Regions from separate parts of the Homo sapiens genome. Here region 1 is linked to region 2. Evidence: fine-mapped expression QTL. Tissue or cell type: tibial nerve. Region 2 holds a variant in brackets; the other region holds the start of a gene. All regions are shown on one strand. Distances are from middle to middle.

Region 1 (8,178 bases), 21 kb before region 2:
TCTGGAATTATGGAAATGTTCTGTATCTTGATTGGTTTGTTGGATACATGAATATATATCTTTGTAAAATAGTTTTTCATTTTACCTAAAATTTTTTTTTAATTACCTTCAACACTTAGCTTTCAGCTAGCTCCTCAGTGGAAAAGAGGGGCCTCTGAAGGGGGCAGGTGGAGGTAGGGGAGGTGGAGCTGAAGATAGCTGCTGCTCTTGTCAGAAGAACAGGATCTCAAACTCACCCACTCCCTTACTCAGAGCATGTGATTGATGGAGCACACTTCTCCTTGAGAAGAACTCTGAGGACAATGGGCACACCCTTGTCTGAGCCCGTTACATTTCCAGAAAGCTAATCTACTGACCCTCTATGGATTTGTTACAACCATAAGTCTTACATAACCAGTGCTTTAAATTGTAATAAACTAGATATCTTTGCAAACAACATTCAACTTCTAAATTTTGAGAAACAGGCAAATACATGTAAAAGTTCTCATTTCTGATTTTATTTTAACTAGAGACGGGGATCTCGCTATGTTGCCCAGGTTGATCTTGAACTCCTGGGCTCAAGCAATCCGCCCACCTTGGCCTCCCAAAGTGCTAGGATTACAGGCAGGAGCCACCGTGCACAGCCTGAGATTTTATTTTCAAAGTGAACTGTTGCAGGATTGATTCCAACAGCCCTTCCCACTGGAGCCAATCACACCAGAGTTGATGAGGGAAGGGAAGAGTTAGTGGAGAGGCCTCAGCCAAGAGGCTCAAAATCAACGCAAGGAAGATGAGGACTGAAAAGCAGCTTGGAGATTTCAGCCAGGTGGAGGTGGAGGAATAGAAGCCAGATTGAGGTAGGATGAGTGTAGGGAGTGATAAGGAAATGGAGACTGAATTTTCAAGAGGTTTGGCTAAGAAGAAGAAAAGATAAACAGGGTATCAAGTGGAGGAGGACGTGGGGTCAAAGAAGGGGTTTGTTTTTGTTTTAAGGCTAATACGAGCATGTTTCAGAGCTGACAGGAAGAGCTGAAAGGTTAGGAGGCGGGGGCTGATGGATGTCTCAGGTGTCTGATAGGAGGGGAGGGGTGGAATCCTCATCTAGAGAGTGGCTGGAGAGAAAAGACAGACGCCTCTTCCGCGGCGAGTGGCAGGAGGAGCAGTGGGCAGAAGGGCAGCTGTGGATGGGGGCGGATGTGCTGGCAGGCAGGAGGGCGTTCTTATGTTGATAGACATAAGCCACCTAAAGCCATGGCTTCCAGATCCTCAGCAGCTGAGCTGCTGAGAGGTGTGCAGCAGTCTGGAGAGGGCAGGATGTGGCCGTTGAGAGTGTGGACAGAGTGACAGAGCAGCAGTTCCCAAACCCGAGTGTGCATCAGAATCACTAAGGGCTTGGTGGGCACAGAACACACCCTGAGTTTCGGAATAGACATAGAAAGGGTTTGCCTTCCTAACAAGTTCCCAGGTGCTGCTGGGGCTGCTGGCCGAGGTCCTTGCTTGGAGAATGACTGGTTAAAGAAGCCACAGCTGTCCCACCCTGCAGCTCCAAGGGGACCGCTTTGCATGGCTGCCACCATGCCCCTCCAAGAGGAGGTAGCATGCTGGTCCCAAGGGGCATGATGGTATCACTTTCACCAACAGAACTTAGCAGTCCCTGAGCAGAACCTGGAACCAGAAAGGGGGACAGGAGAAGCTCTGCCACTTGGGTAAGATGCAAGAACAGAACAAAGAGGATTCAGGTGCTGGCAGGAATGGCTGTTGGACTGAGCTGAGGGCTCCTGGCCCAGAGTCACTCTCCTCACTCCCAGTGCGGACTCTCATTTCCCTGTCACTTGTCCACACCCTGTGTCTTTCCAGTTCCCACCCAAATCTCCTGTCTTGCATGGAGCCTGGGCTGCACCACGACCGCATTCACCCTGCTGTCCTTCCCTGAGTCCACAAAACTCAGTATGCGACATGGACCTCCCGCAGCCTCCTGGCTCCCCTTGGATTATTGACTGGCTATACTGTACTCCATCAAATATAAGATGCTATCACTTGTGAAAGACATTACTTAATCACTGCCAATTATAATTGTAAAAGATATCTTGATTCTCAAGATGTTAAAATGTGAAGAAATGTGTTTCTTAGAATCCATGGAATATGGATTCTTGAGCATCTGAACAGGTGATCTGCAGAGCATGGTGCCCCCCAAGACCCATTCAGGGGGGTCTCCAAGGTCAAAACTATTTTTTGCAACAATATAAGTCATTATTTGCCCTTTTCACTCTCATTCTCTCATTAGCGTGCAGTGGGGTTTTCCAGAGACTACATGTGTGATGACATCGCTTTGATGCCCAATGGAATATATGTATTCTTGTGTCTTAAAACTTTCTGAGTTTTAGTTTCTAATATGGTAAATGTTGATAGACATAAGCCACCTAAACAAAAGCTCTTGGGGTCCTGAAACCAAAAAATTTAGGAATCACTGCACTAGGTTGTACGCCCAGCACTTGGCCGGCATTGAGTCCATGGTCAAGCGTAAGGAGAGGCCCGAGGGGGATGTGCACAGTGCTGAAGGTGCACAGGAAAGGGACTTATCCCAGCCGGTCTGGGAAGGCCTTCCAGGGGAAGTGGGGTGCTCGCCTGCCAATCTCAGGCATGTGGATGCTTCACCCAGGTGGCCCTGTCTTGCTGACCAGAGATTTGTGCCAAACCAGCTCTGCGACCCTGGGTTTAGTCATGCTACCTTCTATCACTATTAACATGAGGCTAATGTGTAGGTCACAGAGGCTGTGATGAAAATTAAATAATTGAATGCACGTGAAAGAATGCCACTCATAGAAGGTTTCACATGACCACATCCTTGGTGGCTGGGTTGTGTCTTGGGCATCTCTGTTTTCTGCCACAGAGCTTAACACAATGCTTGGCACACAGGGGTGCTTGGAAAACACTGAGTGAAGGAATGCATGTTGGGGGTGTGGCCTAAGCAAGACGTGGAGCTTGCCTTCTCCAGACACCAGGTTTCCCATGGGATCTGGAGCAGGTGATGAGCGGTAGTCCATAACACCTTCCTCTCTGGCTCTGTGCCAAACCAGATTCCTCCTCGTCTCCTCCAAACCATCTGTCTTCTTCCACCTCCCCATTCCCTCCCCCCAGTTCCCCAGGCTGGTGGCCTTAGCATCAGTTAGACTTTCTTCTTTCCCCACCTGTCTGTCCTCAAGGTTGCTAGGTTCATCCAAGATCTGAGCCAAGAGGTCCGGGTCTGGGACGTGGGCGCTAAGGGCCCAAGGCAGCTGCAAAAGACCTGAAAGGTGAGAAGAGAGATCAGTGGAGGACCCCGGACTGTCCTCAAGAAGCGGACGGACTCCCCTGCCCTCCACTGGCAGCCCAACAGCAGAACCAAAGCGGACCACTCAGCACAACCTGTGTGTGTTGCTGGGCGCTGTCCCTGGCCCAGTCTGGACCAGGAGCAAAGAGGAAAGATTCAGGGCGTTAGTGCCAAGAGCAGCCATCCCAGCAACAGAAGCCCCTGCTTCCCCAGTACCCGTGATACTTGGGAGGAGCAGAGTCTTGAGTGGAACCCGAGCCTCTGACACCCGCCCTGGGGGTCTTCCCTCCACTCTCGCCAGGGTCCTCCTGGATGAGTGAGACAAGGGCAGTTCAGGAGGTCACCCAATAACTGAGGTCGCAGCAACACGAAGGAGCCAGGGAGCAGGGGCGGCCTTCCCTTCTCCACTCCAGGCGGCTCCAGCGTGCACCCCAGGACCCCCCAGGAAGGTTTTGCAGGAATAAAGAATGAAGGCAGAAGCAAGATGGAGGATGAAGGAGGCGTGGATGGCTTCAGAAGGCAAGACGGAGGCAGCAGTTTGGCGCCTGTCTCAAAGCCTCCTCCCCGCGCCAAGGACAGGTCGGAGGAGGGGGGCGTGGGGACAGGTAGAGCGGAGGCTCCAGCGTTTCTAAAGGGGAAGACCTGAAGTGGGGCAGGAGAGACGGGTGAGTTGTCTGGAAGCTGCATTTGCCTGGCAAACACTGGGTTAACAAAGACTTGCGTTGCGGGGATGCTGGCCTTGGACAGGGAATGCGAAGGGATTATGCTACGGAGAACGGATCCGAGCGTGACGGCTGAATGAATGAGTGAGCGAGTGAGTGAGTGAGTGAGTGAGCGAGCGAGTGAGTGACTGTGCGAGCGAGCGGCAGAAGGAACTCCGACCCGCCCCAGGTGCGGAGCGGCGCGCCCGGCAGGGGTCACTGCGGGCCCCGCGGGCGGGAAGGGGGCGCAGGCGCGGCGGGCGCCGGGGCCCTCCCGCGGGGACGGGGCGGGGAGGGCTGGGGGTGGGGTTAGAGAGAGGGACGCGAGCGGGATCCAAACTTCCGGTGCCTGCAGAGCTCGGAGCGGCGGAGGCAGAGACCGAGGCTGCACCGGCAGAGGCTGCGGGGCGGACGCGCGGGCCGGCGCAGCCATGGTGAAGATTAGCTTCCAGCCCGCCGTGGCTGGCATCAAGGGCGACAAGGCTGACAAGGCGTCGGCGTCGGCCCCTGCGCCGGCCTCGGCCACCGAGATCCTGCTGACGCCGGCTAGGGTGAGAGGGTCTGGGGCTCAGGCGGTGGGGCGGGGGACCCAGGCTCACGACCCAGGCGCGCCCCGTCGGCCCTGGGGACTGCCCGAGGCGCGTCAGGGCCCCAGAGCCCGGGGTGGAGCAGGGTTGGGAAGTCTCGAATGGTTGCTTATCCCAGAATGAGGAGGGGGCTTAAGTCCCGTACTAAAGCGGCAGCCAAAAGCTGAAGTCCGAAGAGTGGGAGGCGTCTGGTTCTGGTCTTCAGGTGGAGAAGTGCTCGAGGTCTCTTCCAAAAGTGGGGGCCCCCTCGCCGCCTTATAGGGGGAGGGGGCTGGTCCGAAGAAGTTCGAGGAATGTTGGTGGGGGGGTACGCGTCTGGTTCCAATCAACTGGGAAAGCCGCGAGTCGAGTCCCCAGGTGGGGGATGGGAGGAGGGTTAGACGTAGTTTTTCCAAAGTAGGGCGGTGGGACCTGATTGGCTGGGGAATTGGGGGTGGGGGGGTCTGGTACCAACGAAGAGGGTGGGGCCGTTGATTTCCTCCGAAATTGGGGGCTGCGAGGGACAGAGGATGTGCTGCTGGCCTGCACCGGAATTGACAGACCAGAAAGTGATGAAATGGAAATCAGCCAGAACCGACGGCGCTGCGGCCTCTGGACGTCGGGGGTCCGAGGCCGGGTGCCCCCTTCCCACCCCACGCCCTGCCGTCTGGGCCTCCCTGCTCCCCTCTCTTTTCTCCATTCCCAGCCTCTCGCTGGGCTGTCCCCCGACCCCACGGGGAGGGCTCCCAACTGCCCCAGTGCCCTTGCATCCTGGGTCCCCGGGCTCTGTGCGCGTTCCCCCACCCCTGTCATCCCCCTCCCCTACCCCGGCTTCCTCCACTTTCCCTCTGGCCGGGGGGGAGAGAAGGCATTTCCGCCGTGGAAAACTGTCTGAGCTGCGTGCCTTGTGTCCGGGAAGGGCCCGCAGGGGGCAGAACGCGTGGCGGGCAGGGACAGGGAGGGAGGGAGAGCTGGCCCAGCCAGGTTTTATTGTGCCTGGCAAAGGTGTCTACGTGGGCGCCGCCCCCAGCGGTCTTGTGGCTTACCAAGCCCATGTCCTCCCCGCCTCCCCACCCCGCATTGAGGCAGGACTGAGAAAGTCTTTGTCCACTGCTTCCCCACTTCCAGATGCAGGCTTCTGAAGAGTCTTCCTGAACGCCTAGCCCCCTCCCCAGGTTTTGTGGCTCAGGTTCAGTCTTGCCTGGGGCATTAAGGGGCCTGCAGAGGATGACCTGGACCCTGGAGGAGGGGGCGCCGGAGAGGGCCGTCAGAGTTGGGTGTCAGCCTGGGCAGAGACCCTGAGTGAGGAATGCCAGGAGACTGAGAACCCCCTGCCCTTTTATGGTGGTCACTGCAGCAACCAGTGGCTCAGAGCCACAAGAGTTCAACAACCACCTAGGCGAGGTTGGGGGTTGCTGTGCACCCCATGAGAGCAGCTCCCCCCTTTTCATCTGAAGCTTAGGTGGAGGGGGCGCTCCATATTTGAAGAAGATGGTTCTGCAGCTTTAAAAGTTTGCAAGGGGTTCTTCAAGACTCCTTTTCTTTGGAAGGGAAGCTGCCCTCCACTCAGCCTGGGGAGGGGCAGGGATGGGGGCAGGAGGCAGCACGCTTGCCCATCTCTTTTCCTAGCCACCTCTTCCTGGAGATATTTGAGGAGGGAGGACCAGGTCAGACAGTGGGAGGGTGTTATTCCAACTCCATCAGAAGGTCCCCCAGATTTTGCAGGAGCGGCACATTCTCCAGCCGCAGCCTGCTGATGGCATGGGTTTGGGCAGTCTGACAGAGACCTGCATCTCGGGGCATAACTGACATCCTAGCTTCTGGCTTCTCATCAGGCTCTGAAATTGAGCGTCCTTTCTTCCCCCTCACCCAGCATGAAATGGAAATATCAACATCTTCCTGCGTGCTGTTTGTAATGGCCTTGAGCCTGCTGAGTACCTCCTCCCTCAAACTTTGTCAGTTGGGCAGGGTCCCCTCCCTCTCTAATTGGCAAGGGGGAGCTTAGGACTATGCGATCTGGGGAAAGAATTAGAATCCTGGCATCTTTAGGACAGAACTGCATGTTAGTAAACTTTCACAGCTTCCCAAGGCCCTGGCGTGGTGCAGAGGGACTTTAGGTGTTGCAAGTTGGCTCTGCCCATCACCTGCTAGATTTGGAGCCTTGGAAACAGTTCACTTCTGCGGGCCTCCTGTTGCCCCACTTGGCCAACCCGCACATTTCCTCCTTACCCAGTTTCTGGCAAGGAGCCAGGCCTCGTCTCCTGCCCCCAGCAGTGAGCAGGCAGGAGGCCCATTTCTCAGCTGTAGCTCTGTGAGCCGAGGGATGGCAGCCAGGAGGCTGCTTTCTCAGGGCAGGGCGTGTAGATTTTGTCCCGTACTGTTGGGAATGCCCAGGAAAGCTTATTAAAACGTTTCTTCTGGCTGGCAGTGACCCCAGAACCCTCCTTGGTGTCTGAACTGGACTCCAAAACAAGATTTATTTTATTTTATCTATTTTATTTTATTTTATTTTTTTTTTTGAGACAGAGTCTCACTTTTACCCAGGCTAGAGTTCCGTGGCACGATCTTGGCTCATTGCAACCTTCACTTCCAGGTTCAAGTGATTCTCCTGCCTCAGCCTCCCAAGTAGCTGGGAATAAAGGCACCTGCCACCATGCCCGGCTAATTTTTGTATTTTTAGTAGAGACAGGGTTTCACCATGTTGGCCAGACTGGTCTCAAATTCCTGACCTCAGGTGATCTTCCCACCTCAGCCTCCCAAATTGTTGGGATTACAGGTGTCAGCCACCACACCCGGCCCAAAACAAGATGTAAAAAGTGATCCGCAGGAGGAGCACTCGGTGAACAGATGATTGTGCGGTGAACAGATGATTGTGCGTTGGGGCAGTTCTTGACCTGTGTCCAGGCCCAGAGTGAGGGCGGGGTGGGGGCAGGGTGAGGCGGCAGGAGCACCCTCTCGGTGGGCACTGCCCCTGCTTCTGAGCAAAAACTGCAACACAAGGAGGATTTTGTCTGTGGACCTGAGACTGGAAGGAAGTGCCTCAGTGGGCCAGGGAGGGATGGGGGTGGGGGCCAGCTGGGCTTCCAGCTGCCCGGCCTCCCCCCCTGGTGTTTTGACTCTGAGATAATGAGGAGCTGGGACACTGCCAGCTTGGGAAGTGGGCTGGACCGGAAGCACCCCCTGGGACAGCAAAGCACTCCCTCCCAGCGCCAACTGGATCCCTCCTCCCCTTTGGGGGCCCACTGGCTGGCCATGCCCCTCTTAGCCTGCCCCTTCTCCCCACACCCTGCCTGTGCCTGCACTCACACACACACACACACACACTTATGCACACACATGCACGCACAGATGTGGGCATGTAGAGGCTCACGAGCTGGGGCTGTAAGGGGAGAAAAACAAGTTAAATACAATCATCTTCTTACCTCTGTAATTTTCTCCTTGGCATTTGCCTTTGATTAATGGTCCTGTGTCACCCCCTCCCCAGCCTGCATACCTGGGGATCAGATTTCAGTTTCCTAGTGTGTCCTGGTCTCAGGCCCTCGGCAGGAGGAGCTGGGTCTCCTGGAGCGGTTGGGGGAGGGTCCCGTGCCAGCCAGGAGGGCAAATCTGGCCAGCTTAGCCC
Region 2 (8,178 bases):
ACAAACCATCCCAAAACTTAGTGGCCTGACACAGTGGTTTATTATTTTTCCCGAGTCTGTGAGTTGCCTGAGTTCAGCTGGATGACCGAGGGGTCCCCGTGGGATAACCGCACCCTCTGCTGTATGTTCATCTGGGAGCTCAGCTGCGGTCCAAGCAACCAAGATGGCCTCTCACCCTCCAAGGGCCTCGCTCCACGTGGCCTCTAACCATTAATGGTCTAGCCCAGCCCTCCTTACAGCTTGTCAATTGAGCTCCAAAAGAGGGGAAGCAGAGGCTGACCATCCTTTAAGACCTGGCACCACAAATCCCAGAATGTTACTTCATTGCATTCTGTTGGTCAAAGCAAGTCACAAAACCAGTTCCGATTCAAGGGGAGGGAAAGACCCTGCAGATGGGGAGCAGCTTGCATGCTCAGGGATGCCAAGAACTGTTGGAAACTCAGACATCATCCGAGCACTCCCCGCCATCCCTCTCCCCTCAGTATTTCATGGGGGACATTAAATGCCTGAATTAGTGCAAAGACACACCTATTCTTAGAACCAAAGACAATCTTGAAAATATGTCAATTTTCCATAAATTAGCCAATCTTAAACTCTACTAATTAGCCAATCCAGGTAATTCCTATCTTGGGTTTCTCTGTTCTGCTTTCTAATTGTACCATATATCCAAGAATCCCTGAGGAAGTTTTGCTTGGATCTGAACACTGTGAAAGTGGTAACAAAATACACATATTATTCTCTGACTTGCTTCCCCACCCTCCAAACCTTTTAAGCCGTGTCCATGTTGAAGCCTATGGTAATATTTCATTCATTTTTACTGTTGTATATTAGTTCATTGTATGAATATACAGCTTAATACCTATGAAACAATGACTAACCATGGCTCTTTGGATTTTTTTCTGATTTTTTTTTTTTTTTTTTACTATCAGAACGCTTTCATGAACATTTCTTTGATGGGGTTCCTGGGGCACCTCAGCACTGGGTCACACAGTGTGCAAATATTCAACTCATAAAATTCTAGCAGATTGTTTTTTGTAAGACATTGAACCAATTTACACTTCCAGCTGCACCGCATAGACATTCTACTCGTTCCACATCCTTGTCAACACTTCATGTTAGCAATACGTTTTTTGCCAATGGATAGGAAATAAAATGGTATTTCATTATGGTTTTAGTTGTGTCTCCTCGATTACTAGAAAAGTGGGGCCGGTTTCACATGTTTATTGAACCCTCAAATTTCCTTTCCTGTAAAATGCCGACTTGCTTTCTTTGGCCTATTTTTCTATTGGTTGCTTTGTTTTCTTACTAATTTGTAGGAGTTATTTATATATTTATACATTTTATATTTTACATATTTTCATTGATGGGTGGTAAGTATCTTACCCAAGTTAGTTCATGGCTTGCCTTCTCACCTTTTTTTTTTTTTTACAAACAGCATCACGTGTACATAGCTTTCTCACTTTCTTTGTGGTCACTTTGATGAACAGAAATTATTGATTTTAATGCAGTCAAATTTATTCATCTTTTTCCTTGTGGTTAGGGCCTTTTATATCATTTCAGAAATCTTTCCCATCCTAAGGTTGAAGAGGCATTATTCTACAATTTCTTCTATTCATTTTAGAGTTTTGTATTTTACATTTTTGAATCCCCAGGAATTTAATCCCTGGTCTGATGTGAGGTAGGAATAACGATTTGTTCTGTTTTTGTTTTTCCTTCCCCACTGAGTTACAGTATATGTCTGCAAGGATCAAGTTTCTCTATATGTAAGGTCTACTTCTGGGCTTTCTGTTTTGTTCATCAGGTCTATCCGTTGGACCATAACCACACTTAAAGTAAGTCTTGCTACCTGGTACTAAAAGTTTCCTACCTTGATTCTCTCCAGCAGTGCCATGCCTATTCTTGGCCCTTTTTGTTCATATGCATTTTAGAAACAACTGCCAAGTTTCATGGAAAATTCTGTTGAGGTTCTTTTTTTTTTTTTTTTTTTTTGTGACGGAGTCTCGCTCTGTCACTCATGCTGGAGTGCAGTGGCGTGATCTCTGCTCACTGCAAGCTCCGCCTCCCAGGTTCACGCCATTCTCCTGTGTCAGCCTCCCAAGTAGCTGAGACTACAGGCACCTGCCACCGTGCTCAGTTAATTTTTTGTATTTTTAGTAGGGATGGGGTTTCACCATGTTAGCCAGGATGGTCTCAATGCCCTCATGATCCGCCCACCTCAGCCTCCCAAAGTGCTGGGATTACAGGTGTGAGCCACCGCGCCTGGCCTTCTGTTGAGGTTCTTAATGGACTTATATGAAATCTATAGATCCACTTGGGGAGAATTGAAATCAGGATATTGAGTGCTCTCACCCATGAACATGGTATTTTTAAAATCTGCATTGTTAATGTCTTCCAACATAGTTTTATACTTTCCTCAGTAGGGGTCTTACAAATCTTTCATTACATTGATTCCTATGTCCCTTATATTTGTTGTTATGATGTTTAATAATTATACCTTTGTTGCCAATGTGTAGAAGTATAATTTATTTTTGAGTATTGATCCAGCAAACTTGCCGGGCTGTCTTTCTTATTCCACAAAGTTCTCTGAGGAAATTTTTTTTTTTTTTTTTTTTTTTGAGACAGAGTCTCACTCTATCACCCAGGCTGGAGTACAATGGTACAATCTAGGCTCACTGCAACCTCCGCCTCTAGGGTTCAAGCGATTCTCCTGCTTCAGCCTCCCGAGTAGCTGGAATTACAGGCCCATGCCACTACACCTGGCTAATTTTTGTCTTTTTAGTACAGACGGGGTTTTGCCATGTTGGCCAGGCTGGTCTCGAACTCCTGACCTCAAGTGATCCACCTGCCTCAGCCTCCCAAAGTGCTGGGATTACAAGCGGGAGCTACAGTGCCCAGCCTTGTGCTTTGTAGACAAGCAATTCTGGTAACTGATTATGAGTAAATTTTGTTTCTTCCATTCAAATAATTAAAACTTTTATTTATTTTTCTTGTGCTATCTTACTGGGTAGGAGCTCTGGCACCATGGTGATAGCCACAAATCTTGTTTTGTTCTTGATTTAAAAGGAAATTCACCTTGAATATAGTTTAGCTGTAAATATTAGAAGAATACTCTTTGAGATTTAAGAAGTTCTCTATTCTTAGTTTTCAAAGTGTTTTTATTTTTAATCAAGGATTGATATTAAATTGTTTTATCAAATGTTTTTTCTGCATCTATTCATATGTTTGCATATCTGTTAATGTGGCGAATATTGCTAACTGATTTAGTCATGAGGTATTTTCTTATATCTATGCTACTGGATTCCATTTGCTAACATTTTGTTTAGGAATTTTAGATATATGTTTTTTGTAACATTGGCCTGTAATGGGAGTAAATTAGTTTGACAAAATCAAATTTTAAAATGCAATGTTTTTGGCCCAGAATGTATCCTATGGATGTACTCCATAGGATATGCAAAAGTATATGTACAAGCATATTTATTGTTATAATAGCAAGAAACTAAAGACAAATGTCCTTTAGTTGGAGACTTGGTATTTTAAAAAAGTACAGTATTTTGTTGCTATTACAAAGAATGAGGTAGATCTATTTGTGCTGATGTGTAAAGTTCTCCGAAATCTATAATTAGGGTAAAGCAGGTGGCAAGAGCAAGAATATATATTTATCTCTATCCCGTTTGTGAATTTTTTAAGTGATAGCGCTATGGCTGTGCATGTGCTATTTCTGGAAGCGCACTCAAAGCCTTGTAACACCAGTTCCCTCTGGAGAGCAGGGATGGCAGGAAGCTGTAGGACTACGTCTCTTTCTACACCTTTTTATAATTCATAAGCATGAGCATGTATTGGTCTCTGTACACCTGCCCCTGGGCTTGAGGAGGCCCTGCTGGCTGCAATGTCTCACTTTCACCTAACTGCACGGAGTCTCAGCCACTTCCCTCCAGCCCTCGAGGACTGTCACCCATCCTAGAATGGAGGCCTTGCATTAGGCCCGGGTTTGGCCAGAAGAATAGAGCAGTTGGAAATGTTAAGTTGACATAAATAGGAAGCTCTGTAACCTCGTGCAAGTGTTGTCTTGGAAACCAGAGCCTG[G/A]GCGGTCTCCATGGAAACCGTGCTCAGCCTTCTGCCTGAAGGAGTTACCACCCACTGGTGCTGGAGTGTTACTTATCAGGGACCTCAGAGCTCCAATAACTGCTTAGGGAATGATGATGGACTGGTCCCTGCCCACCCTGGCCATGTCAGGTGTGGGGCCCTGGGCACCTCCAGCTCTCTGCCTGGGAAAGAAAAAGAGCCCATTTCCATGGGACGTGCCCTCATGGGGAGGCACAGCAGACCACCCAAGGCAGCACATGCAGTGTCCCCGAAGTAAGGAGGGAGTCCTGTGTCCCGAGGTCCCGGGGATCTGGACTCTGCCATTGTCCCCTGGTGCATCTGTACAGCTGTGGTGGGCTAACATCATCTCTGGGCTCCAACTTGCCCTTCTGTAAAATGGGGAGTTTGGACCAAGTCATTCTGAAGGTCTTTTCCAGCTTTAATGACACGTGTTTTGCATGTGACCTGGCAGCACAGGGTTCAGAGGAGGGAGAGATCAGAGTGACTAGTGCAGGCTTCCTGGGGAACCATTTGAGCTTTGAAGGTGGGGAAGAGGAATGTCAGAGAGTGGGCAAAATACAACAGGAAAGGTCCAAATTCACCCTCTGAGGGCCCGGGGCACGGGGGCAGCCTGCTCTCCTCCTGGGGCCCTGTTCCCTGTGGGGACTGGAAGAGAGGCTTTGAGTCTAGGGCCTGGGGCAGCCAGGACTGACGGGGGTGCAGTCCTAGAAGGGTCGGCAGTCACGGTGGCCCACCATGGCATCTCCGTATCCTTGCTGCATGCTGCACCCACTCCAGCTGCCAGAGCACGGAGGCAGAGACGTGGGAGCCGATGAAGGTCGCACGCCAGCCTCCCACCTGTGAGACAAAGGGCCCTGTCACTGGAAGCCACGTCCAGCCTGGCCCCGCAGGAGCCAGGGCTCTGCGCCTAACGGAGGACTGATGGGAAAGGGAAGGCTGGCAGCAGTGAGGTAATGGGGTGGGGGGTGGGGGTGGGAGGCAGGGGGAGGTGGGGAGGACAGGGAGGGGAGGGAGGGAAGGGGAGGGACTTTAGCCAGCACGCTTGTCCCACACTGAGCGAGTGCCCACAGTGTTCAAGCAGTCAGTATGCCAGCAGTTTTTCATTGATTACTTTTGTTCGTGTCTCGCGTTATCTCTGGGGTGAGTATGAATTTCATAGCCACAAACTCAGGTGTCCAAAGTATCTTTATTGGTATCTTTATTTTTCTATAATAGTGTGTTTTGTGTAATAATCTAGTTTTCAAACCTTCCCTTAGTCTAGTGGCAGAATGTGTAATCTTGATATTTTCTAGGTAAACTCGGTCATCACTTCAGTTTGCCCTTTTCAAAGATATTAATTTTTGCCCTCCCTTCCCCACCAGGGGCCAATCATCTGAATCACGTTCCTGTATTCAGGATTTGCCCCTCCAAAACAGTTTTGATGGGAGACACCAGCCACCTACTATTATGCAGCCATGCACCACATAACGACGTTTCAGGCAACAATGACTGCACATACCACAGTGGTCCCGTAAAATTACAATGGAGCTGAAAAATTCCTATTGCCTAGTGACGTCACAGCCATTGTAAGGTCAGAGTGCAACACATCACTCATGTGTTTGTGTTGATGCTGCTGTAAACAAACCTACCGCACTGCCAGTCATATAAAAGTATAGCCCATACAATTATGTGTAGTACTTAATACTTAATAATAATAAACAACTATGTTGCTGGTTTACGTATTTACTACACTGTGTTTTTAATTGCTAATAAGAGTGTACTCTTTTTAGTTATTAAAAAAAAAGTTAACTGTAAACAGACTCAGCAGATCCTTCAGGAGGTTTCCAGAAGAAGGCATTGTCATCATAGGAGGTGACAGCTCCATGCATGCATTGCCTCTGAAGTCCTTCCAGTGGGACAGGATGTGGAGGTGGAGATGGTGATACTGATGGTCCTGACCCTATGTAGGCCTAGGCTCATGTGTGTGTTAGTGTCTAGTTTTTAACTAAAAAGTTTAAAAGTTAAAAAAAAAATTTTTAATAGAAAAAAAGGGGGACTGGGCGTGGTGTAATCCCAGCACTTTGGGAGGCCGAGGCAGGCGGATCACCTGAGGTCAGAAATTCGAGATCAGCCTGGCCGACATGGTGAAGCCCCGTCTCTACTAAAAACACAAAAATTAGCTGGGCGTGGTGGTGCGCACCTGTAATCCCAGCTACTTGGGGGGCTGAGGGAGGAGAATAGCTTGAACCCAGGAGGCGGATGTTGCAGTGAGCCGAGACACACCATTGCACTCCAGCTTGGGTGACAAGAGGGAGACTCTGCCTCAAAAAAAAAAAAAAAGAACAAAAGACTAAGGGTACAAAGAAAATACTTTGTGAAGCTCTATGTGTTGGTGTTTTATGCTAAGTATTATTATAGAAAAGTCCAAAGGTTTTTAAAAATTGAAAAGTTTATAAAGGAAAAAAAAGGTACAGTAAGCTAAGGTTACATTACTATTGAGGAAAGAAAAAATCTTCCGTAAATGTGGTGTAGCCTAAATGTACAGCGTTTACAAAGTCTACAGCAGTGGTCGGTAATGTCCCAGGCCTTCCCATTCACTCACCAACCACTCACTGACTCACCCAGAGCAACCTCCAGTCCTGCAAGCTCCATTCATGGTAAGCGCCTTACACAGGTGTACCATATTTTTATTTTTCCTACCATATTTTGAACGATATTTTTCTATGTTTAGATACACCATTGTGTTGCGATTGCCTACAGTATTCAGTACAGAAACATGCTGCACAGGCTTGTGGCCTAGGAGCAACAGGATAACCCGTATAGCCCAGGTGTGCAGTAGGCTATGCCATGTAGGCTAACATGTATAGCCCAGGTGTGCAGTAGGCTATGCCATGCGGGTTTGTGTAAGTGCACCCTACGATGTTCACACAATGAAACTGCCTGACAATGCATTTCTCAGGACATATCCCTGTTGTTAAGCTGAATCTGTTTTTCCCAGTGCCCCTTGGGGCTGGAGTCAAGCATGTGACCAGGCTCAGCCAATCAGATGTTTCCTCTCTGTATTAGTCCATGTTCACACTGCAATGAAGATTCTACCTGAGACTGGGTAATTTAGAAAGGAAAGAGGTTTAATTGACTCACGGTTCCACGTGGCTGGGGAGGCCTCTGGAAACTTACCATCGCGGCCGAAGGCGAAGGGGAAGCAAGGCACGTGTTAGTCTCACATGTGGCAGGAGAGAGAGAGAGAGCACGGCGGGGAAGTGCCAGACACTTATCAAACAACCAGAACTCATGAGTGACGACTCATGGGAGAAACTGCCCCCCGATCCAATCACCTCCCACCAGGCTCCTCCCTTGATGCGGGGATTACAATGTGAGATGAGATTTGGGTGGGGACAAAGAGCCATACCATATCACACCCAGACCATGCCATAGGGACAAGTGACTCAGGAAGGGGGACAGTGAAAAATGCATCCTGGTAGAGGGGACAACAGCAACACAGAGTCTCGTGGGCATCAGGAAGGTGGTGGCATCATCTCCACATTCTGGAGCCCGCGGTTCCCTTTGTGGTCTCCCAATTGCTGAAGTGGTTTCTCCAGCCCACCCAGTGACTCTGAGCCACCCAGTGTCCCGTCAATCAATTCCTTTCTTCCTAAATTCACCAGAATTGTTCCCAGTGTTTGTGTCACAGTTTTATTGAACACGGGAGCCTTGTGGGGTGTAATCCGAAAACAATTCTTTCTCCCACTACCTTTTCAAGCCTGGTCGGTGGGTTGGGTTCTCCTCTGACCTTGGATGAAATTGAAGGTAGGTTTCTTGGTTTTTCTGGTCCATCCAAGATAATAAAAATCCCTTGGGTAACTTTTATTCACACAAATCCAATTTCAGTAATTACAACATCTAACTATCAAAACAGTTGAAACTCCAGATGGCATTTGAAGTTAAAACCACTCCCTTGCCCCATCCCAGACCTGCCCACATGGGAAGCCTACAAGGCGCGTGGGGAGCTTGGCGGGTTTCTCCTCCATGCCCCTGCCTCATGCTTCTACTTTTCCTCCCCTTCACTAGGCTCCTCGGCGCCTCCAAGTTTGGGAC

What was found. PIP is the estimated chance that this variant, and not a neighbour inherited with it, causes the effect.
Region 1: it holds the start of ITM2C, and the variant in region 2 is fine-mapped to the expression of ITM2C in tibial nerve (GTEx, PIP above 0.99).

The regions. Positions count from the first base shown.
Region 1 is chr2:230,860,605-230,868,782 of GRCh38, forward strand. ITM2C (integral membrane protein 2C) reads left to right here and starts at 4,338. Exons shown (of 6, transcript NM_030926.6): 1 at 4,338-4,541. The coding sequence starts at 4,422. RefSeq lists enhancers at 1,286-1,896, 3,022-3,680, 4,339-4,997, 4,998-5,654 and silencers at 4,088-4,457, 4,558-4,647, 5,438-5,537.
Region 2 is chr2:230,881,916-230,890,093 of GRCh38, forward strand. It overlaps GCSIR (GPR55 cis regulatory suppressor of immune response RNA), which reads left to right and starts at 4,631. Exons shown (of 4, transcript NR_038238.1): 1 at 4,631-5,054. RefSeq lists an enhancer at 3,994-4,063. The variant G/A (reference allele first, on the strand shown) is at 4,084.